Homo sapiens: one gene and its partner. The protein of the gene in region 1 purifies or fractionates together with the protein of each later gene. This does not show direct contact. Each region holds a gene or a part of one and is shown in the gene's direction. Other genes may lie near its edges. The genes, in order: MITF and RBM6.

Region 1 (11,804 bases):
GAGGATTTGTAACAAAATAAAATAAAACCATTACCTATTGTGAGGTGGTTTTGATGAATGTACAAGCACAATTCCATCTTCAATGTTTTGCTTTCCCAGGTTTCAAGGAAAGGCATTTTCAAACCCGAAACATTTCAGATTCTCAGTTCTGCAGCACAAATTTATCCTACTAAAGGGCTGTGACCTTCATTTCCTATAGTCAGTCTTGCATGATAGTTGAAATTGAATTCCCATTTTCCTCTTCTTTATCAGCTTTCACTTTTTAGCATATTCTTTTAAACTGTAGCATGTGAATCTCTTTAGCAACATATTATGAAATTATGGGGCTGCAGTGAAAGCCTCTATTTGCATATCTTCTTTCCCCGTTGTATTAGAATACTTGCGGGTTTATAATCTGAACTGATAATGATCTTTAATTGTAGGCATTGTTTTAAGACAAAACAGACTATAATCTATATGGTGGTTTCCCACACCAGGTTTCTAGAATGTGCCTTGGGGCTGCTATAGAGACACAGTCTTACAGACTGGGGTCTCAGCCCGGTACCTTTTCTCCCACCAGAGCAAGTCTGCATTTGTTGATTTTATATAATGGAGATCTATATTCACTATTCTGTGAAAAAAGAGTCCCTCTTATTACCAAACAAAAAAAAAGTTTGAAAACCCTTTCTTAAACTCAGAAGCATAATTGATTGATTGGATCTCACAAGGAAGCAAAACCCAAGATAATTGGTTGAAACAATCACTTCTTTTAAACTGAGTGACCCTTCAAATATCCCAATTCTGATTTCTCTTCTTGCTGGCCTATGTGAAGCATCATTTATTTTAACTACATTTCTCTCTGGCTGCTAAAGTTACTTCTCTTACTTTGATCTTAGCTCTGAATATTAAGTCTCTGCGCTCACTGTGGGTATCTCAGGACATTCCCCTGGGTTGCCATCTTTGGTGTTCAGACCCCAGGGATCAACTCCAGGGAATTCTCTGGGGGCTGGAACTGTCCCTCTTATGGGAGAACTTCTGTGTTGTTCTTCATGTAACCCAGATGAGGATCAATTACTTGGTGACTTGTTTAATGACCCTCCATTCACCGGTTCCACCTGATACTTGTAGATGAGGAAATGGACAAAGAGAGGCTAGATAGCCTGCCCATGATAATCCTTGATTAAAAAAAAAAAAAATAGAAGGATGCTGAGTTTATGCCATAAACAATTTAGTAGTGAGATCTCACAGATCTGTTTTACCATCGTTTATTCTCACTGAGTTAACTTTTGTAGTTTTAGAAACCTATAACTCTTTAACATAGTGTTTAAGGAAACTGACTTTGTAATCAACAGACCTAACTTTAAGTCCTGACTCTGCCATATAGTACTGTGTGGCCTAGGACAAGTTGAATTGTGTCTGTTTCAACATGTGCACAGTCTCTCTCTTACAAGGTGCTTGTCTGGGTTAAGTAAGACAATGTGTACAAACTGGGTGGGCAACACTAGGCACGTGGCAAACACTCGTGAATGGCAGCTATAATTAATGTATGATTATTTTATTTTTAAAATTGAATGCTTTTAAAAATGATACAATGGACTTTGGGGACTTGCGGGGAAGGGAGGGAGGGGGTGGGATGGGGGTGAGGGATAAAAGCCTACACGTTGGGTACAGTGTACACGGCTTGGGTGGTGGGTGTACCAAAATCGCAAAAATCACCACTAAAGAACTTATCCATGTAACCAAGCACCACCTGTTCCCCCAAAACTATTGAAATAAAAAAAAATTTTAAAAAGTTCAAAAAGAAATGGAGTGCTTTGAATATTGAATTTTCATTGAGCCTCAAATCCTAAAAATATCTGTTTTCCTCCATTTTCATCGCAGAGACATGCGCTGGAACAAGGGAACCATCTTAAAAGCATCCGTGGACTATATCCGAAAGTTGCAACGAGAACAGCAACGCGCAAAAGAACTTGAAAACCGACAGAAGAAACTGGAGCACGCCAACCGGCATTTGTTGCTCAGAATACAGGTACGCAGCCTGAGTTGTGTAAAGTTTACTGCTTTTTACCGACTTCAAGACAGTAGAAACAGGGATATAATGAGCCATAGGGGAGTTGACTTACGTGATCCTAACACAGTCAATCCTTATTATTTGTGGATTCTGTGTGTGTGAATTTGCCTACTTGTAACCCCAAAGTCAGTATCTGTGGCACTTCCACAGTCATTCTTGGACATGTGCAGAGTGGCACGTTTGAGCTGCCCATGGCACGCATTTCCAGGTGAGGTCGAATGACCCTGCCTGAGGTTGACTGTCTGCTGTCTTGTTTCAGCTCTCATCCTCTAAACAAGTGCTCCTTTCGTGGTCTGTTGAGTACTTTCTACATTTTTGTGGTTTCTGTTGGTGATTTCGCTGTTTAAAATGACCCCCAAGCATAATGCTAAAGCACTGTCTAGAGTTCCTGAGGGCAAGAAGGCCGTGATGTGCTTACAGAGAAAATACATGTGTTGGATAAGCTTCGTTCAGGCATGAGCTACAGTGCTATTGGCTGTGAGTTTAATATTCATGAGTCAACAACATATATTACATAAGGTGACCTTCAACAGAAACATACATAAAACAAGATTAAGTGTTGTGACTAGGGTCTCACAGGAACCTAACTTGTAATTCCCCTGGGAACAGTGCTTCAGTGTTCACCAATTCAGTGTTCACAGTGACTTTGTAGAACATAAAAAAAATAAGTACTGACTATACCACGTTAAACAAGAAGATGCCTTAGTATTTGTAGGGTCCGGGAAGCAGTTGATGGTCAAAATCTGTGTTTACAGGGAACTTGGGAACACCCAGAGGATCTTATATTAAGGACATAATTCCTGGAGATAGTTATAAATAGTGGAATTATAGCATATATATCTTTAACTTAAACTATACACCATTAGAAGAAGACATACTAATTTTATTAATATGTGCCATTTGTGCGTCATCCTACTCAGTGGGTATATGCACCAGTGTAAGCCGGAGATGGGGAATTCCTCTTTGGTATCAACTCCTGGAACTTCTCTCAGGGGCTTGGCGTCTCTTGTTGAGTGAAAGGGCACTACTTCCTCTGAAATGATCCTCAAAAACAGACTCCCTGTTATGGACCAAAGGGGGTTTGTGAGGGTAATTTTAATTTGCTGACTTTGAACACAACCTATCTGTAAGAGTCAGTGACACCATATCTTCTTCTTGAGTAGGCTGACCCACCTTTTACTAGATTTTGCCATAAAGCAAGGGTTGTCTTTCAACTTTTCCAGTGCAACTATTCATGGAGTTATTTTACGAAACAGCAATGAGAAGTATGACACCCTAGCGACCATTGTGTTTCACCTAGTGGTGCTCCTCCCGGACGTTGAACTTTTCAAACAGAGCAATTCACTTATAATAATGGTCTCCAGTCTTCTGAATGCTTATATTTTGAAATGCCACATCTCTCATTCACTGCAGTGATTCCTCAGCTGTGGGGTGGGGAGGTGGGAAGCCACTTCCCTGTTGGGGTGCATTTTAGATTCTGGGTAGTGAAGTAGAGGTAGTGTGTAATTTGAAAGCCCTCCTTTCCCCTCCCCTCCTCTACTTTGGCTTTTGTTGTTGGTTTTATGTTCTGTCTCTTCAATAAGTAGCTATAGGTATTTAATCTCTCGAACATAGTCTGCCTATTTATAAAAGCAGCTTGTGGGCCGGGCACGTGGCTCACGCCTGTAATCCCAGCACTTTGGGAGGCCAAGGCGGGTGGATCACAAGATCAGGAGTTCAAGACCAGCCTGGCCAAGATGTTGAAGCCCCATCTCTACTAAAAATAGAAAAATTAGCTGGGCATGGTGGCGGGCGCCTGTAATCCCAGCTACTCGTGAGGCTGAGGCAGAGAATCACTTGAACCCGGGAGGCAGAGGTTGCAGTGAGCCAAGATCGCGCCACTGCATTCCAGCCTAGGCGACAGAGTGAGACTCCATCTCAAAAAAAAACAAAAAAATAAAAATAAAAATAAAACCAGCTTGTGGCCGGGTGCGGTGGTTCACGCCTCTAATCCCAGCACTTTGAGAGGCCAAGGTGGGTGGATCACGAGTTCAGGAGTTCGAGACCAGTCTGGCCAACATGGTGAAACCCTGTCTTTACCAAAAATACAAAAAAAAAAAAAGAAAAGAAAAGAAAAGAAAAATTAGCTGGGCATGGTGGTGGATGCCTATAATCCCAGCTACTCATGAGGCTGAGGCAGGAGAACCCGGGAGGCAGAGGTTGCGGTGAGCTGAGATTGTGCCATTGCACTCCAGCCTAGGCTATAGAGCAAGACTCCGTCTCAAAAAACAAACAAAAAAAAGCAGCTTGTACTAATGTGTTGTTTCCTTCTACAAGTATTAAAATGTAATAACTATTTTGAAAGAGAAGCTAGGTTTTGTTTTATTTTAGGGTTCCAAACATGTATATTCATATGAAATACGAATATTGTGAAATATGTGCATTGGAAATTCCATGGTGACGATATCTTGGTTTTCTTCCAGTGACGGTGTGAGGCAGCCTTTAGAACTTTTGCATATCACAGAAAACATTATTAATTAGGAAAGCTCTGTGATGCAATTAAGCCAGAGTTCTCTAGATGAGATTTATCACCTTATTTAGAAATCTGAGTAATGCTTTAATCGCTGATAAATATTTTTAATTAGACAACAAAGGATTAGAGTGAGATGTTTGCCTCTCTTAATCCAACTTTATTATTCTTTTTCTGAAAAGACAATCTGCCTGTGTGGAGGTACTGTTCTTATTAGCATGTTGGTGTAGATTTACAAGAGTCCATGTTTTCAGTATGGGCCTAAGGGCTTTCTTTCATTTTCACTCTAAGTGATGCATGCAAAAGTTTTCACAGAAGAAAGAGCATGAATCCTTTATGTCAGTGGAACTGCCATTTTATTAAATAGCCCAGGGCTTTCAAATGGTGCCTGAAGAAACTTGTGTTTCTGGAGATTATGTAAAGGAACTTGAAGGTACTTGTGTGACATGTCAAGCTCCTGGCTTTTACTCATATTGTATCCAAAGAAGGATTTTGCAGACCCAAAAACCTTGAATTTAGACTGAAACGTGGCTTTGCAGGCACATATGTTTCTCAGCTTGTGGGCAGAGGTTGAGAGGCCATGTCATATGGAGAGTCCTTCCCCTCTCTGATAAGGAAAGGTGACTTGCTTCAAATTTATATTCTCTTGCTATATATTATTGTTTCACAACCGTGGAAGGGATAGCATTGGAATGGAGAAGCAGAATGCTTATCAGGAATCAATTAAAGTCTGTGTGGTTCATTTTAGGAGTGCCCAGGGATACACTCAGAAAGGAAAAAGGGAAAGAGCTTGCTTGGAAGGCATTTTGCAATGAGTTACAGGGGGAATCAAGGGTATTTAGGAAGTGTATTACCCAGCTAGTGCTGCTGTAGTGAAATGCCACTGACTGGGTGGTAAACAAGAGTTATTTTCTCATAATTCTGGAGGCTAGTTGTTGTCCAAGATCAAGTTGTCAGCAGGGTTGGTCCCTTCTGAGGCCTCTCTCCTTGGCTTGTAGATGCCTGTCTTCTCCCTGTGTGTTCACATGGTCTTTTTTCCTGTGTGTGTCTGTCCCAATCTCCTCTTCTTACAAGGACACCAGTCCTATTGGGTTTAGGCCCACTAGTAAAATCTCTTTTTAAATTAATTGCCTCTTTAAAGGCCCTATCTCCAAATACAGTCACATTCCAAGGTACTAAGGTTAGGACTTCAACATTCAAATGTTTTCCAGGACACAATTTAGCCAATAATAGGAATGTATGTGAGGAAGGAAAGGAAAAAAATTGTTCATCTTATAGATGAGAACGTACTTGTTGAGTTAAAAAAATACTTCCCCTTTGCCATGGTGAGATGGGCTAAATGATGCTTCTAAAACTTTAGTTACTGGCATAGAACTTTCACAGCTTTTGCTATCACTACCCAAATTTTTTACTTCATGGCACTCTTAGTGTTTTAGCAATCTTTTTACCATCCCCCTAGACCAAAAGAAATACCTACTCTTTTTGTTAGGTCCGAACAACTTATTAAGTATTTAGGTTCTAACAACTTGGTAGCCATTTGAAAAAATAAAACATATAAATTGAAAGGAAATAGCATTTTTATTTTGTTATTAAATAACCATATTACTTACTAACTGGATGTGTGTGTCTGTTGGGCACTGCACGACTTCTAAAGTCTTGGAATCAGATTGGACACCATCACCCCATCGCCCTTGTTTCCCAGGCCACAATGATGTTCATGTGGCACTTGTTTTCCTTCAATCACAGCAACTGCCAAAAGCTCAACTTTGCAATGATATCATGTGGTTGAAAAGTATATAGCACAGTCTGATGCTAGAAGAGAACTATCTTGAGTTTAGTAGTTCTCAGGTAGTATTGCCATTGCCCTTGAAATGTTAGGCTATCTCCAGTGCTCTGTGAGTTCATTGCAGCACACATGGGGACCTCAGTGCAAAGCTGAAGGACCATGAAAGCTGAAGGACCATGAACTCTTTACTGAATATGTTTCTTTTTTCTTTTCTTTTTTTTTTTTTTTTTTTTTTTGAGATGGTCTTTCACTCTTCTAGCCCAGGCTGGAGCGCAATGGCGCAATCTCGGCTCACTGCAACCTCCACCTCCCAGGTTCAAACGATTCTCCTGCCTCAGCCTCCCAAGTAGCTGGGATTACAGGCATGTGCCACCACACCTGGCTAATTTTTGTATTTTTAGTGGAGACGGGGTTTCAACCATGTTGACCAGGCTGATCTCAAACTCCTGACCTCAGGTGATCCGCCCCCCTCGGCCTCCCAAATAATATTTTTCTTTTATCAGCTCGCATTTAAAACTTTATTTTTGTATTTTTTAACTTATCCTCAGTGTGAACATTAATATCTGTGAGAGACCATCTCTATTTTTCATACATAATCAAATCTATAAAACACCTAAAAATTTATTTCACATACTGCCAGTGGTACTTCTCCTATACTTTAGAACATACAGAGCTCATTAATTTAAAAGAACAAAAAACTTTTATTTTGAGGATTTATTGTTTTCCAAGTATCTGATTTTTAAAAATAGACTTTATTTTTCAGGACAGTTTTTGGTTCACAGTAAAATTGAAATGAAGCTGCAGATATTTCCCATACACCTCATTCCCCCAAGCACGCACAGCCTTCCCCATTATCAACATTCCCTACCAGAGTGGCACATTTATTAGAATCAATGAACCCGCAGTGACATTTCATTATCCTCCAAAGTCTATACTTTACATTCCCTCTGGTATTGTACATTTTGTGGGTTTGGCCAAATGTCTAATGACGCGCATCTACCATTATAGTATCATATAGAGTGGTTTCACAGGCTTAAAAGTCCTCTGTGCTCTGCCTATTTCAGTGTTTTATCTTTACTCTTATTATAGGAACTTGAAATGCAGGCTCGAGCTCATGGACTTTCCCTTATTCCATCCACGGGTCTCTGCTCTCCAGATTTGGTGAATCGGATCATCAAGCAAGAACCCGTTCTTGAGAACTGCAGCCAAGACCTCCTTCAGCATCATGCAGACCTAACCTGTACAACAACTCTCGATCTCACGGATGGCACCATCACCTTCAACAACAACCTCGGAACTGGGACTGAGGCCAACCAAGCCTATAGTGTCCCCACAAAAATGGGATCCAAACTGGAAGACATCCTGATGGACGACACCCTTTCTCCCGTCGGTGTCACTGATCCACTCCTTTCCTCAGTGTCCCCCGGAGCTTCCAAAACAAGCAGCCGGAGGAGCAGTATGAGCATGGAAGAGACGGAGCACACTTGTTAGCGAATCCTCCCTGCACTGCATTCGCACAAACTGCTTCCTTTCTTGATTCGTAGATTTAATAACTTACCTGAAGGGGTTTTCTTGATAATTTTCCTTTAATATGAAATTTTTTTTCATGCTTTATCAATAGCCCAGGATATATTTTATTTTTAGAATTTTGTGAAACAGACTTGTATATTCTATTTTACAACTACAAATGCCTCCAAAGTATTGTACAAATAAGTGTGCAGTATCTGTGAACTGAATTCACCACAGACTTTAGCTTTCTGAGCAAGAGGATTTTGCGTCAGAGAAATGTCTGTCCATTTTTATTCAGGGGAAACTTGATTTGAGATTTTTATGCCTGTGACTTCCTTGGAAATCAAATGTAAAGTTTAATTGAAAGAATGTAAAGCAACCAAAAAGAAAAAAAAAAAGAAAGAAAGAGGAAAAGAAATCCATACTAACCCTTTTCCATTTTATAAATGTATTGATTCATTGGTACTGCCTTAAAGATACAGTACCCCTCTAGCTTTGTTTAGTCTTTATACTGCAAACTATTTAAAGAAATATGTATTCTGTAAAAGAAAAAAAAAATGCGGCCTTTTCATGAGGATCGTCTGGTTAGAAAACATAACTGATACCAACCGAAACTGAAGGGAGTTAGACCAAGGCTCTGAAATATAAAGTCTAATCTTGCTCTCTTTTATTCTGTGCTGTTACAGTTTTCTTCATCAATGAGTGTGATCCAGTTTTTCATAAGATATTTTATTTTGAAATGGAAATTAATGTCCTCTCAAAGTAAAATATTGAGGAGCACTGAAAGTATGTTTTACTTTTTTTTTATTTTATTTTTGCTTTTGATAAGAAAACCGAACTGGGCATATTTCTAATTGGCTTTACTATTTTTATTTTTAAATTATGTTTTACTGTTCATTTGATTTGTACAGATTCTTTATTATCATTGTTCTTTTCAATATATTTGTATTAATTTGTAAGAATATGCATCTTAAAATGGCAAGTTTTCCATATTTTTACAACTCACTGGTGGTTTTCCGCATTCTTTGTACACCCATGAAAGAAAACTTTTATGCAAGGTCTTGCATTTAAAAGACAGCTTTGCGAATATTTTGTAAATTACAGTCTCACTCAGAACTGTTTTTGGACACATTTAAGGTGTAGTATTAATAGGTTAAAACCAGGCTTTCTAGAAAGAATAAACTTACATATTTATTTTTAGGACATGAAAATAGCAATATTCTTGGAGATTGATAACCATAGCATTAATACGCCCATTATGGTCATTTAAATTGGGGTTTATTTCAGCAAACTTGTTGAATTTATTTTTAAGAAAGAAATACTGTATTGGGAAGTTACTGTTACTTGATAACAATGTTTTAACAAGAAGCAATGTTATAAAGTTAGTTTCAGTGCATTATCTACTTGTGTAGTCCTATGCAATAACAGTAGTGTTACATGTATCAAGCCTAGATGTTTTATACAGATGCCATATAGTGTTATGAGCCAGGCTGTTGAATGGAATTTCTCAGTAGCAGCCTACAACTGAATAGCAAGTGGCATAAAGCATATCCATTCAGAATGAAGTGCCTTAAATATAGCAGTAGTCTTTTTTGGACTAGCACTGACTGAACTGTAATGTAGGGGAAAGTTTCATGATGGTATCTATAGTCAAGACGAACATGTAGCATGGTGCCTATGTAGACAATATAAGAGCTTCCAATTTTCCTTCAGATATTTTTAATATTAAATATATTTTAGTGACAGAGTGCCAACTTCTTTCATCAGGAAACCTTATTCAGGAGGGTTTTTAAAAAGTGTTTAAATGTCAAATGTGAATTGGTGATGGGTGATGGAGGGTTCAGAGAGGAGTGATCGTCAGATGTGTGAATGGACGGTTTAGGTGAAAATAATCAACTGCATAGTTCCCATGCACGCTGGGCAATGAGAATCCTTGGAAACATTGGTGATGCTATCAGTTTTATAGCTTTATTTCTTAAGGGGGTAGGGAAAATTAGTTCCCATTCTTTCAACCCCCTTAACTGTATAGCTCTTTTCCTAGAATAGTGACGCAAATCTGCATGAACAGCTAATTGTACCATAGTGTTCATTGATACAATCATAGCATTGTCTATTTTTCTCTTCATATTTATATGGGGGGGAGGGCGCTGGATGCAAAAGTTGAAGATCGTGATGCTATGATGTTAGTTTTCCTTAGCTGATTTTGAGGGTTTTTAAAAATAAAGCAAGGTTGACTAACCTACGGCCACGGGAACAGGACCATGGTTAAGCAACCATATAGAAAGCTTTGTTGAAAGAAAGTATGGCATCTTGTACCACTGCCCTGACTGTCACAACTCCTAACCTTGCCATTGCCTGCCTCCCCCTCCCCTTCTCCTTAAGAGACAATTTCTGCAGGTGGCAGGTGAGCAAGCCCAGGAGAATGCTGCAATCTTGGGGGTGGTTTTATTTATTTCTTTTTTGCCAAATAGAGTGTGGATTCATTTCAGGGGCTAGCTAAGCCAAGAGGCAGTGGTTTGGGCTTGTTGTTTGTAACAAGAAAATGATCCACACCACTCCCCCGATTCCCGGGTGCAGAATTGTAACTCGGGGTTGGGCCTCTATATGGAGTGACCAAAATGCCAAAATTGTCCATCTGCCTCTGAGTAGGGCAATGGAAATACCAAACCTTCTGACTTTGCCAAAAAGCATACAAGCAACCTGGTCATACATAGGATGACAAAATTCTTTCTGGTTGTTTTTAAACAATAAAGCAATAAGAACAAATACAATACATAGGAAGTTAAAAGCACAAAGGAATGAACTTATTAATATTTTTGAAAAATGCACTGGGAAAAAGTTGATGTCAATAACAGTATAAAACAGCCCTATTTCTTGATAAAAAATGACAAATGACTGTCTCTTGCGGATGCTTGGTACTGTAATGTTAATAATAGTCACCTGCTGTTGGATGCAGCAATAATTTCTGTATGGTCCATAGCACTGTATATTATGGATCGATATTAATGTATCCAATGAAATAATCGACTTGTTCTTGATAGCCTCATTAAAGCATTTGGTTTTTCACATAGTGGTGGCCTATTGTGTTAATGCCAATTTTGAATGCTATCTGCCATATCAAAAAATGGTAGTGCACATTTTCTTCTGATTTAATGAATAACAAATTGCATGAAAATTTAGAAAATGCCAGTAAGTACTTTTTTTGTTTAAAATGCCACTCTAAGATGTTACTTTTTGGTTTTAAACATTTTTGATTACTTTTTGACTTACACTCAGATGAGGTGTAATTATGCACCTTTTTTATCCCCCTCTGAATTTGGGGAGATTTTAAACTCCCAAATGCCAAGACTTCATTTTAGATATAGGAGTTTTATTTAAAATGTTTCATTGAGAGGTGGCTTTAAAAAAGAGAAATTGTCAGAGAAACCCTTGCATATTTACAGAAAAGATATTGGGTTTTTAAAATACAAATTTACAATAATGAAAGCTTAATATACCCAGGCTGCCAGCTCCTGGTTGCCTTTTTTTTTTAATACACTACTTAAGAATCATTTGATAAATGTTGGATTTGAATTGGGAAGTGTCAGACAAAACATGTCTTTATTCCCTAGCTAGACCTTAAACTTCTGCCCTTTTAAAAAATATATTCTGGCTTAACCTCTGGAGAAAATGAGCAAGAAACTTCCTGTAATGCTTCTGATCTGACTGTCAGCTTTTTCCTACTTTTAATTTTCTTCTTAAATTGTAATATACAATAATCAAGGCCTTTCTTTTTTAGACCTATTTGAATTATTTATATTTTCCCTAGAAGTATAACTGTAGGATCCCTTAAAAACATGTAAAAGTAGAAAGATTTCCTTTTGGAACAAGAGAGAATATTCTGGGCAAAATCAAAAGCAAGTAAGTTGAAAATTGGGGCTTTTCATCTCCGGGGGATCTGCAGCAATACC
Region 2 (11,804 bases), about 20 Mb from region 1:
CTGGTGCGTGATGGTAGGACTGGCAGTGAAGAAAGTAACTAAATAATATGTTACCATTTTGGTGAAACACAAAAGTTGAATTTGAACCTTGTCTCAGAAACTAGCATCTAACTAGATACCTAACCTGCAGGACAGGTCCCAGGTCTCTCTGGATAGTTGTAGCACCTTTCCTTATAGAATTCTATTACCAGGCCGAGCCTGGTGGCTCACACCTGTAATCCCAGCACTTTGGGAGGCTGAGGTGGGGAGTTCGAGACCAGCCTGACTAACATGGAGAAACCGCGTCTCTACTAAAAGTACAAAATTAGCCGGGCATGGTGGCACATGCCTGTAATCCCAGCTACTTGGGAGGCTGAGGCAGGAGAATCGCTTGAACCTGGGAGGCGGAGGTTGCGGTGAGCTGAGATTGCTCCATTGCACTCCAGCCTGGGCCACAAGAGTGAAACTCTGTCTCAAAAAAAAAAAAAAAAAAAAAAAAAAAAAACCCGCAAAACTCAACAAAAACCAACATAGTAGAGGCAGCGTTTCGCCTTATGCCCAGCTAATTTTTTGTATTTTTTTAGTAGAGGCGGAGTTTCGCTATGTTGGCCAGGCTGGTCTTGAACTACTGACCTCAGGTGATCCACCTGCCTTGGCCTCCCAAAGTGCTGGGATTACAGGCGTGAGCCACCGTGCCCGGCCCTGTTATAGTATTTCTAAAACAAATTGTGAGCCTGGGCAACATCGCAAAACCCTGTCTCTACAAAAAATACAAAAAAAAAAAATTAGCCAGGCGTGGTGGCATGCTCCTGTTAGCCCTAACTACTCAGGAGGCTGAGATGGAAAAATCGCTTGAGCCGGGGAGGTAGAGGTTGTAGTAAGGGGAGATAGTGCCACTGCACTCCAACCTGGGCCACAGAACAAGACTGTCTCAAAAAAAAAAAAATCAATTAAATAAATTGTGGTAAATATATATTTTTATGTATGTTTATGTATATTTTAACAAAATTTGCTCTTTAAACCATTGTTAAGTATACAATTCAGCCAGGCACGGTGGCTCACGCCTGTAATCCCAGCACTTTGGGACGCCGAGGTGGGCGGATCACGAGGTCAGGAGATCGAGACCATCCTGGCTAACACGGTGAAACCCCATCTCTACTAAAAATACAAAAAATGAGCCGTGCGTGGTGGTGGGCGCCTGTAGTCCCAGGTACTCAGGAGGCTGAGGCAGGAGAATGGTGTGAACCCGAGAGGCGGAGCTTGCAGTGAGCCGAGATTGCGCCACTGCACTCCAGCCTGGGCAACAGAGCGAGACTCCGAGACTCCATCTCAAAAAAAAAAAAAAAAAGTATACAATTCAATGGTATTAATTACATTCACAATGTAGTACAAGCAATACCACTATTTCTGAAACTTTAGTATCTCAAACAGAAACTCTGTAACCAGGGAGGGCATGGTGGCTCACGCCTGTAATCCCAGCACTTTGGGAGGTCAACGTGGGCAGATCACTTGAGTTCAGGAGTTCAAGAACAGCCTGGCCAACATGGTGAAACCCCGTATCTACTAAAAATACAAAAATTAGCCATGCATGGTGGCATGCATCTGTAACACCAGCTACTAAGGAGGCAGAGGTTGCAGTGAGCTGAGGTCATGCCATTGCACTTCAGCCTGGGCTGCACAGCCAGACTCCATCTCAAAAAAAAAGAAAAAAAGAAACTGTAACCATTAAACAAGTTAACTTCCCATTTCCTCCTCTTAATCTCTAATCTACTTTGTGTCTGTCTGTGAGTGTGCTTGTTCTAGGTACTGCAAATACTAAATGGAATCATACAGTATTGTCCTTTTTTGTGTCTGGTTTATTTCACTTAGTGTAATGGTTTCAAGGTTGATCCATGTTGTACTGTGTATCAGAATTTCATTCCTTTTTAAGGCTTAATCCGTTGTGTGTGTACACTACATTTTGTTTATTAATTCATTTGTAGCAGACACTTGGGTTGCTTCTGCCTTTTGACTATTGTAAATAATGATGCTGTGATCATTGGTGTACAAATATCTCTTTGAGTCCCTGCTTTGAATTCTTTTGGGTATATACCCAGAAGGGAAATTGCTATATGGTAATTATTATTATTATTAATTATTTTATTTATTTTTTTTTGAGACAGGGTCTTGCTCTGTTGCCCAGGCTGGAGTTCAGTGGCACAGTCATGGCTCACTGCAGCCTCGAACTCGAGCTCAAGCAGTCATCCCGCCTCAGCTTCCTGAGTAGCTGGGACTACAGGCATGGGCTGCCACAACCAGCTAATTTTTTTGTTTAATTTTTATTTTTTGTGATGAAGTCTTGCCTTGTTGTCTAGGGTGGTCTCGAACTCCTGAGTTCAAGTGATCCTCCTGTCTTGGCCTCCCGAAGTGCTGGCATTACAGGCATGAGCCACCACATCTGGCCCATAATTTTTTTATTTTAATTTTTTTGTGGAGACAGGGTCTCCCTATGTTGCCTATGCTGGTCTCAAACTCCTGGCCTCAAGCCATTTTCCCTCCTTGGCCTCTCAAGGTACTGGTATTACAGGCATGAGCCACTGCACCCAGTTGATACTTGGTTATTATATGTTTAGCTTTTTGAGGACCCACCATACTGTTTTCCTCAATGGCTGCATCGTTTTACATTCCCACCAGTAATACACAAGGGTTCCAATTTTCCCACATCCTCCCCAACACTTATTTTCTGTTTTTCCTTTTTTGATAAATTTGTGTGTGTATATGTGGTTTTTTATTTGTGTGTTTTGATGATAGCCACCCTAATGGGTGTGAAGTGGTATCTCGTTGTGTTTTCTTGGTTTTTGCTTGTTTGTACCTTTTTACCCATTTTTAAGTGTGCTACTTAGTAGTAGTAAGTACATTCTTCTTTTTGTGCAACCATAATAAAAATCCAGCTTCAGAACTTTTTTCATCTTCCCAAACTGAGTTTCTGTACCCATTGAATAGTAACTCCCTATTCTCTCCTCCCCTGACAATCACCATTCTGCTTTCTGTCTCTATGAATTTGACTACTCTAGGTATCTCATGTAAGTGGAATCATATAATATTTGATCTTTTGTGTATGGCTTATTTTACTTAGCATAATATCTTCAGGATTCATCCATCTTGTAGTATGTATCAGAATTTTATTCCTTTTTAAGGCTGAGTAATATTCCATTATACATATATACCACATTTTGTTTATCCATTTATCTATTGATGGACATTTGGGTTGTTTCCACCTTTTTGCTCTTGTGAATATAATGGTGCTATGAATATCAGTGTACAAATATCTTTTTTTTTTTTTTTTTTGTGAGACAGTATCGCTCTTGTCACCCAGGCTGGAGTGCAGTGGCGCGACCTTGGCTCACTGCAACCTCTGCCTCCTGGGTTCAAGGCATTCTCCTGCCTCAGCCTCCCGAGTAGCTGGGATTACAGATGTGCGCCACCATGCCTAGCTAATTTTTTTATTTTTAGTAGAGAAGGAGTTTCGCCATGTTGGGCAGGCTGGTCTTGAACTTCTGACCTCAGGTGATCAACCTGCCTCGGCCTCCCAAAGTGGTGGAATTACAGGTGTCAGCCACCGCGCCCAGCCACAAATATCAAGTCTTTACTTTCATTTCTTTTGGGAATATATATACTCAGAAATGGAATCGACAATTGACAGAGCAAATGGTAATTCTATGTGTAATTTTTTTTTAAATTTTTTTTTTTGAGACGGATTCTTGCTCTGTCGCCCAGGCTGGAGTGCAGTGGCGTGATCTCGGCTCACTCCAAGCTCCGCCTCCTGGGTTCTTGCCATTCTCCTGCCTCAGCCTCCCGAGTAGCTGGGACTACAGCATCCGCCACCACGCCCGGCTAATTTTTTGTATTTTTAGTAGAGACGGGGTTTCACCGTGTTAGCCAGGATAGTCTCCATCTCCTGACCTCATGATCTGCCCGCCTTGGCCTCCCAAAGTGCTGGGATTACAGGCGTGAGCCACCGCGCCCGGCCAATTTTTTTTTTTTTTTTTTTTAGACAGGGTCTTGCTCTGTTGTCCAGGCTGGAGTGCAGTGGTGCAGTCACAGTTCTCTGCAGCCCTGACCTTCTCAGTTCAAGCTATCCTCTCACCTCACCCTCTTAAGTAGCTGAGACTACAGGTGCATGCCACCATGCCTAACTAATTTTTTTATTTTTTTGTAGCTGTGGGATTTCGCTAGGTTGCCCAGGCTTTATGTATCATTTTTTGAGGAACTGCCTTACTGTTTTCCACACTGGTTGCACCATTTTACATTCTGTTAGCAGTGTACAAAGGTTTTGTTATAGACTGAATTGTGTCCCCCTGAAAATTCACGTGTTGAAGCCCTAAGCCCCAGTGTGACTGTATTTGGAAATAGGACCTTTACAGAGAAATTAAAAAGTTAGAAGATATCATAAGGGGCTGGGCGCGGGTGGCTCATGCCTGTAATCCCAGCACTTTGGGAGGCTGAGGCAGGCGGATCACAAGGTCAGGAGATCGAGACCATCCTGGCCAACACGGTGAAACCCCGTCTCTACTAAAAATACAAAACATTAACCGGGCGTGGCGGCATGCACCTGTAGTCCCAGCTGCTGGGGAGGCTGGGGCAGGAGAATGGCGTGAACCCGGGAGGCACAGCTTGCAGTGAGCCAAAATCGCGCCACTGCACTCCAGCCTGGGCGACAGAGCGAGACTCCATCTCAAAAAAAAAAAAAAAAAAAAAAAAAGAAGATATAAGGATGAGACCTTAATCCAGCAGGACTGCTGTCTTCGTAAGAAAAGGACTGGATACCAGGAGTGCGTGTACAGAGAGAAAAAGCTGCATGAGGACAGAGGTAGAAGGGGGCTGCCTGCAAGCCAAGGAGAGAGACCTCACCTAAAACAAACCTTGCTGACACCTTGATCTTGGACTCCCAGCCTCCAGAGCTGTGAGAATAATTTCTGTGGCTTAAGCCTTCCACTCCATGGTATTTTGTTATGGCAGTCCTAGCATACTGTGTAATATAGGTTTCAATTCAGTTTCTCTGCATCCTCCACATCCTGGCCAACACTTGTTATTTTCTTTCTTTTTTTTTTTTGGAGACAGATTCTCGCTCTGTCACGCAGGCTGGAGTGCAGTGGCACAATCTTGGCTCACTGCAACCTCCACCTCCCGGGTTCAAGCGATTCTCCTGCCTCAGCCTCCCGAGTAACTGGGATTACAGGCAGCCGCCACCGTGCCCAGCTAATTTTTGCATTTTAGTTGAGATGGTGTTTCTCCATGTTGGCCAGGCTGGTCTTGAACTCCTGACGTCAGGTGACCCGCCAGCCTTGGCCTCCCAAAGTGTTGGGATTATAAGCATGAGCCACCGCGCCTGGCATTTTCTTTTTTTTTGAGACAGAGTCTCACTCTGTTGCCCAGGCCGGAGTGAAGTGGCATGATCTCGGCTCACTGCAACCTCTGCCTCCCAGATTGAAGCAATTCTTGTGCCTCAGCCTCCCGGGTAGCTGGGATTACAGGCGTGTGCCACCACGCCTGGCTAATTTTTGTATTTTAGTAGAGACAGGGTTTCACCATATTAGCCAGGCTGGTCTTGAACTCCTGACCTCAAGTGATCTGTCCACCTTGGCCTCCCAAGGTGCTGGGATTACAGGTGTGAGCCATCTCACCCGGCCTATTTTCTGTTTCGTTTTTTTTTTTTTCATTAGTAGCTATCCTAGTGGATGTGAAGTGGTATCTTATTGTGGTTTCTGATTTGCATTTCCCTGATGATAAGTGATGTTGAGCGTCTGTTCATGTTCTTATTGGCTATTTGCATATTCTCTTTTGGAGAAGTATCTATTCATGTCTTTTGTTGACCATTTTAAAATGGGGTTTTTCATCCTGGCTAACACGGTGAAACCCTGTCTCTACTAAAAATACAAAAAAAAAAAAAAAAAAAAATTAGCCGGGCGCAGTGGCAGGCGCCTGTAGTCCCAGCTACTCGGGAGGCTGAGGCAGAAGGATGGTGTGAACCTGGGAGGCAGAGCTCGCAGTGAGCAGAGATTGAGCCACTGCACTCCAGCCTGGGCGACAGAGCGAGACTCCGTCTCAAAAAAAAAAAGGGGGGGGGGGGGGGTTTTGAGCTGGGTGTGCAGGTGCACACCTGTATTCCCAGCTGCTCAGGAGGCTGAGGTAGGTGGATCTCTTGAGCCCAGGTGTTTGAGGGTGCAGTGAGCTGTGATTGCACCACTGGACTCTACCCTGGGTGACAGAGTGGCCCAGTCTCTAAAAATAAAATAAAATTAGGTTTTTGTCTGTGTTGTTGAGTTTTAGGAGTCCTTTATACACTCTAGATATTAATTCCTTGTCAGATATTTGACTTACAAATATTTTCTCTCTGTGGTTGTCTTTATACTCTGTTGATAGTGTCTTTTGATGCACAGAGGTTTTCATTTTGATGAAGTCCAATTTATCTTCTTTTTTTAAAATCTGTGCCTCATCTGCAAATATTACCAATCGAAAGTCATGAAATTTTTCCCCTAAGATTTTATAGTTTTAGCGCTTACGTTTGGGTCTTTGATCCAATTTGAGTTAATTTTTTATATATTTTTGTTGTGTAAGAGTCCCACTTTATTGTTATGCATGTGGATATTCAGTTTTCGGAGTACCATTTTCCATTTGGGAAAAAGATTGTACTTTCCCCATTGGATGGTCTTGACACCTTTGTTGAAAATCAGTTGACTAAAGTTCAAGACTAGCCTTGCCAACATGGCAATATCCCGTCTGTACTAAAAATACCACAATTAGCTGGGCATGGTGGTGCCTGGCTGTAATCCCAGCTACTCGGGAGGCTGAGGCAGGAGAATCGCTTGAACTGGGAGGTGGAGGCTGCAGTGAGCTGAGATTGCGCCACTGCCCTCCAGCCTGGGCGACAGAGCGAGACATGAGAATCTGTCTTAAAAAAAAAAGAAAATTGACCATATATGTGAGGATTTATTTCTGGTCTCTCCATTCAGTTGATTGGTCTTTATGTCTATCTTTATGTCCTTACTGCACTGTTGTGATGGCTGTAGCTAAATGGTACACTTAAAAATGGTTAAAATAGGCCAGGCACGGTGGCTCACGCCTATAATCTTAGCACTTTAGGAGGCTGAGGTGGGCAGATTGCCTGTGCTCAGGGGTTCGAGACCAGCCTAGGCAACATAGTGAAACCCCGATTTTACTAAAATACAAAAATTAGCTGGGTGTGGTGTGTGCCTGTAATTCCAGCTACTCAGGAGGCTAAGGCACAAGAATTGCTTGAGGCCTGGTGCTGTGGCTCACGCCTGTAATCCCAGCACTTTGGGAGGCCGAGGCAGGTCAAGAGATCGAGACCATCCTGGCCAATGTCATGAAACCTAGTCTCTACTAAAAATACAAAAAATTAGCTGGGTGTGGTGGCGCGCACCTAGTCCCAGCTACTTGGGAGGCTGAGGCAGGAGGATCACTTGAACCCAGGAGGTGGAGGTTGCAGTGAGCCAAGATTGCGCCACTGCACTCTAGATTGGCAGCAGAGTGAGACTCTGTCTCAAAAAAGAAAAAAAAAAAAAAGAATTGCTTGAACCCAGGAGGTAGAGGTTGCAGTGAGCTGAGATTGCACCCTGCACTCCAGCCTGGGCAACAGAGTGAGACTATTTACATACCCAATTTTTTTTTTTTTTTTTTTTTGGGATGGTGTCTTGCACTGTCGCCCAGGCTGGAGTGCTGTGGCGTGATCTTGGCTCACTGCAACCTCTGCCTCCTGGGTTCAAGCAATTCTCCTGCCTCAGGCTCTCAAGTAGCTGGGTTACAGGTACCTGCCACCACGCCTGGCTAATTTCTTGTATTTTTAGTAGAGATGGAGTTTCACTATATTGGCCAGGCTGGTCTCAAATTTCTGACCTTGTGATCCGCTGGCCTCAGCCTCCCAAAGTGCTGGGACTACAGGTGTGAGCCACCACGCCTGGTCATACCCAAATATTTTACCATAATTATACAAGAATTTATTATTTTTATTTTTTTCTTTTTAAATTCTTTAATCTTCTTCATTTGTTAATGCTTTGCTGAATCATAAAAAATTATGAAATAAAAAGAATAGGTCTTGTTGATTCTTCTTTTTACTTACCTCCCCCTACTTACCCCCTCTTACTTTATCAAAGAAAACACTTCATTTGAAACTTAACGGAAGTACATTCTCCCAGAGAGGAAAATCCTTCAGGACAACATTTTTTTTTGTTTGCTTGTTTTTTTTGAGACGGAGTCTCACTCTGTCCCCGAGGCTGGAGTGCAGTGGTGTGATCGCAGCTCATTGCAACCTCTGCCTCCCGGGTTCAAGCGATTCTCCTGCCTCAGCCTCCCGAGTAGCTGGGACTACAGGCGCCTGTCACCATGCCCTGCTAATTTCTGTATTTTTAGTAGAAACAGTTGGCCAGGATGGTTTCAATCTTATGACTTTGTGATCTGACCACTTTGGCCTCCCAAAGTGCTGGGAATACAGGCGTGAGCCACAGTGCTCAGCCAATTTTTTGTATTTTTAGTGGAGAAAAGGTTTCACCGTCTTTGCCAGGATGGTCTTGATCTCCTGACCTCGTGATCCGCCCGCCTCCCAAAGTGCTGGGATTACAGGCCTGAGCTACCACGCCCAGCCTTTTTATTTTTTTATTTTATTTATTTTATTCTCAGCCTTCTGGGTAACTGGGACTACAGGTGTATACCACCACGCTCAGCTAATTTATGTATTTTTAGTAGAAATGGGGTTTCGCCATATTGGCCAGGCTGGTTTTGAATTCCTGGTCTCAAGTGATCTGCCTGCCTCCGCCTCCTAAAGTGCTGAGATTACAGGCATGAGCCACTGGCCCAGACTACACTTAAAATTTTCAAATCGAGATATTTTGGGGGGCAAGGGTGCTTCTAGCAGCCACTAATTCCAGTTCTTGAGTGCATATTAAAGTTGCTACTGTTTAAAAGCTTGTAGTTGGATCCAGGGAGTGGGTAGGCGGTCAGAGTAACCCTTGCTTCTTGGTGTCTCCTTGATGCTCTTAGCTGAATGTCCTGTGTAGCCCACAACATTTACTTTGGGAAAAAATTAAGAGTGTTTAAAGCAGGATCAAGCTGCTGCATACCACAGCTAAAACTACTAGAATAAGACCCCTGGTTCTGTTTCATTGTTTTTTGGAGCTAAAGTCATGATTAAGAAGGATGGCCTGGGATATTGGTACTGTGCTGCTAGAGGTGCAATTCCTGGTTCTTTGCAAGATAGACCAGAGTGAAAGCATTTGTTAGGAATGTTTTTATTAATCAAGAGTGAAAGGCAAGGCCAGGCGTGGTGACTCAGGCTTGTAATCCCAGCACTTTGGGAGGCCAAGGTGTGGGATCATTTGAGGTCAGGAGTTCAAGACCAGCCTGGCCAACATGGTGAAACCCCGTCTCTACTAAAAATACAAAAATTGGCTGGGTGTGGTGGTGCATGCCTGTAATCCCAGCTACTCGGGAGACTGAGGCAGGAGAATCGCTTGAATCCGGGAGACGGAGGTTGCAGTAAGCTGAGATCATGTCACTGTGGTACAGTCTGGGTGACAGAGGGAGACTGTTTCAAAAAAAAAAAACAGAAAGAATGAAAGGCAAAACATTAAAAATAGAATTACCATGTGATCTAACAATTTTACTTCTGGATATATATCCAAAATAATTGAAAACAAAGAAAAAGAAAAACAGAGTCTCGATGAGATATTTGTACCCATGTTCATAACAGCGTTATTCACATTAGCTAAAATGTGGAAGCAACCCAACTATTCATTGATGGATGAATAGATAAGGAAAATGTGGTATGTACATATAACTGAAAAATTATTCAGTGTTAGGAAGGAAGGTAATTCTGACATATGCTACAACATGGATGAACCTTGAGGATATTATGCTAAGTGAAATAAGCCAGTCATGTAAAAGACAAATACCATATAATTTCACTTAGACACTTTGAGTAGTGAAAATCATAGAAACAGAAAATAGTTGTCAGGGATGGTGTGAGGGATGAATCAGCAGTTACTATTTCTTTTTGTTTGTTTGTTTTTTGAGATGGGGTCTTGCTCTGTTGCCCAGGCTGGAGTACAGTGGTGTGATCTTGGCTCACTGCAACCTCTGCCTCCCAGGCACAAGCCATCTTCCCACCTCAGCGTCCTCAGTAGCTGGGACTACAGATGTGTTCCACCTTGTCCGGCTGATTTGTGTGTGTGTATATGTGTGTGTGTGTGTGGAGACAAGGTTTTGCCATGTTGCCCAGGCTGGTCTCGAACTCCTGAGCTCAAGCATCAAGCAATCTACCTTTTTCAGCTTTCCAAAGTGCTGGCATTACAGACAAGGGCCACTGTGCCTGGCCTTTACTATATTTTATTTTATTTATTATTTATTTATTTATTTATTTATGTATTTTGAGATGAAGTCTCACTCTGTTGCCCAGGCTGGAGTGCAGTGGCACGATCTTGGCTCACTGCATCCTCTGCCTCCCAAGTTCAAGTGATTCTCCTGCCTCAGCCTCCAGTTATTATTATTATTATTATTATTTTTTTGTTGTTCTGTTTTTTTGAGGTGGAGTCTCGCCCTGTCGCCCAGGCTGGAGTGCAGTGGCACAAACTCGGCTCACTGCAACCTCCATCTCCCAGGTTCAAGTGATTCTTCTGCCTCAACCTCCCAAGTAGCTGGGAATACAGGTGCCCGCCACCACGCCTGGCTAATTTTTGTATTTTTAGTAGAGACGGGGTTTCACCACATTGGTCAGGCTGGTCTTGATCTCCTGATCTTGTGGTCCACCTGCCTCGGCCTCCCAAAGTGCTGGGATTATAGGTGTGAGCCCCCATGCCCTGCCTTGTTATTATTATTATTTTTATTTTTTTGTCTGAGACGGAGTCTTGCTCTGTCACCCAGGCTAGAATGCAGTGGCACGATCTTGGCTTAGTACAACCTCTGCCTCCCGAGTTCAAGTGATTCTCCTGCCTCAGCCTCCCGAGTATATAGGACTACAGGTGTGTGCCACCATGGCTAATTTTTGTATTTTTAGTAGAGATGGGGTTTCACCATGTTGGTCAGGATGGTCTAGATCTCTTGACCTCGTGATCTACCCGCCTTGGCCTCCCAAAGTGCTGGGATTACAGGCATGAGCCACTGCGCCTGGCCCCAGTTTTTGTATTTTTAATAGAGACAGGGTTTTGGCATGTTGGCCAGGCTGGTCTCAGACTCCTGACCTCAAGTGATCTGCCCACTTCAGCCTTCTGAAGTGCTGGGATTAAAGACATGAGCACTGTGCCCAGCCACTTTTACTATATTTTAAATTAGGTTACTTATCCTTTGTTTTTTTTTTTTTTTGAGACGAAGTTTTGCTCTTGTTGCCCAGGCTGGTGTGCAATGGTGCATCTCGACTCAACGCAACCTCTGTCTCCCGGGTTCAAGTGATTCTCCTGCCTCAGCCTCCCGAGTAGCTGGGATTACAGGCATGCATCACCACGCCAGCTAATTTTGTATTTTTAGTAGAGACAGGGTTTCTCCATGTTGGTCAGGCTGGTCTCAAACTCCCGACCTCAGGTGATCCACCTGCCTTGGCCTCCCAAAGTGTTGGGATTACAGGCGTGTGCCACTGCTCCTGGCTTATTTTTCTTTTTGTTACTGAGTTGAAATCATTTTTTATATATTTTAGATACAAGTCACTTACCAAATATGTAATTTGCACAAATTTTCTCCCATTCTGTGGGATGTCTTTTCATTTAAACCAAAAAATTGTAGAGATGGGGGTTTTGCTGTGTTGCCCAGGTTGGTCTTGAACTCCTGGTCTTAAGTGATCC

The links.
Region 2: the proteins of MITF (region 1) and RBM6 purify together in Homo sapiens (affinity purification with mass spectrometry; 2 studies listed by BioGRID and IntAct, with this or other methods). This does not show direct contact.

The regions. Positions count from the first base shown.
Region 1 is NC_000003.12:69,957,413-69,969,216, forward strand, and holds the end of MITF (microphthalmia-associated transcription factor), read left to right. Parts: intron 1-1,860; coding exon 1,861-2,008; intron 2,009-7,434; coding exon 7,435-7,836; 3' UTR 7,837-10,920; downstream 10,921-11,804. UniProt on the Homo sapiens protein: Transcription factor that acts as a master regulator of melanocyte survival and differentiation as well as melanosome biogenesis.
Region 2 is NC_000003.12:49,941,187-49,952,990, forward strand, and holds part of RBM6 (RNA-binding protein 6), read left to right. Parts: intron 1-11,804. UniProt on the Homo sapiens protein: Specifically binds poly(G) RNA homopolymers in vitro.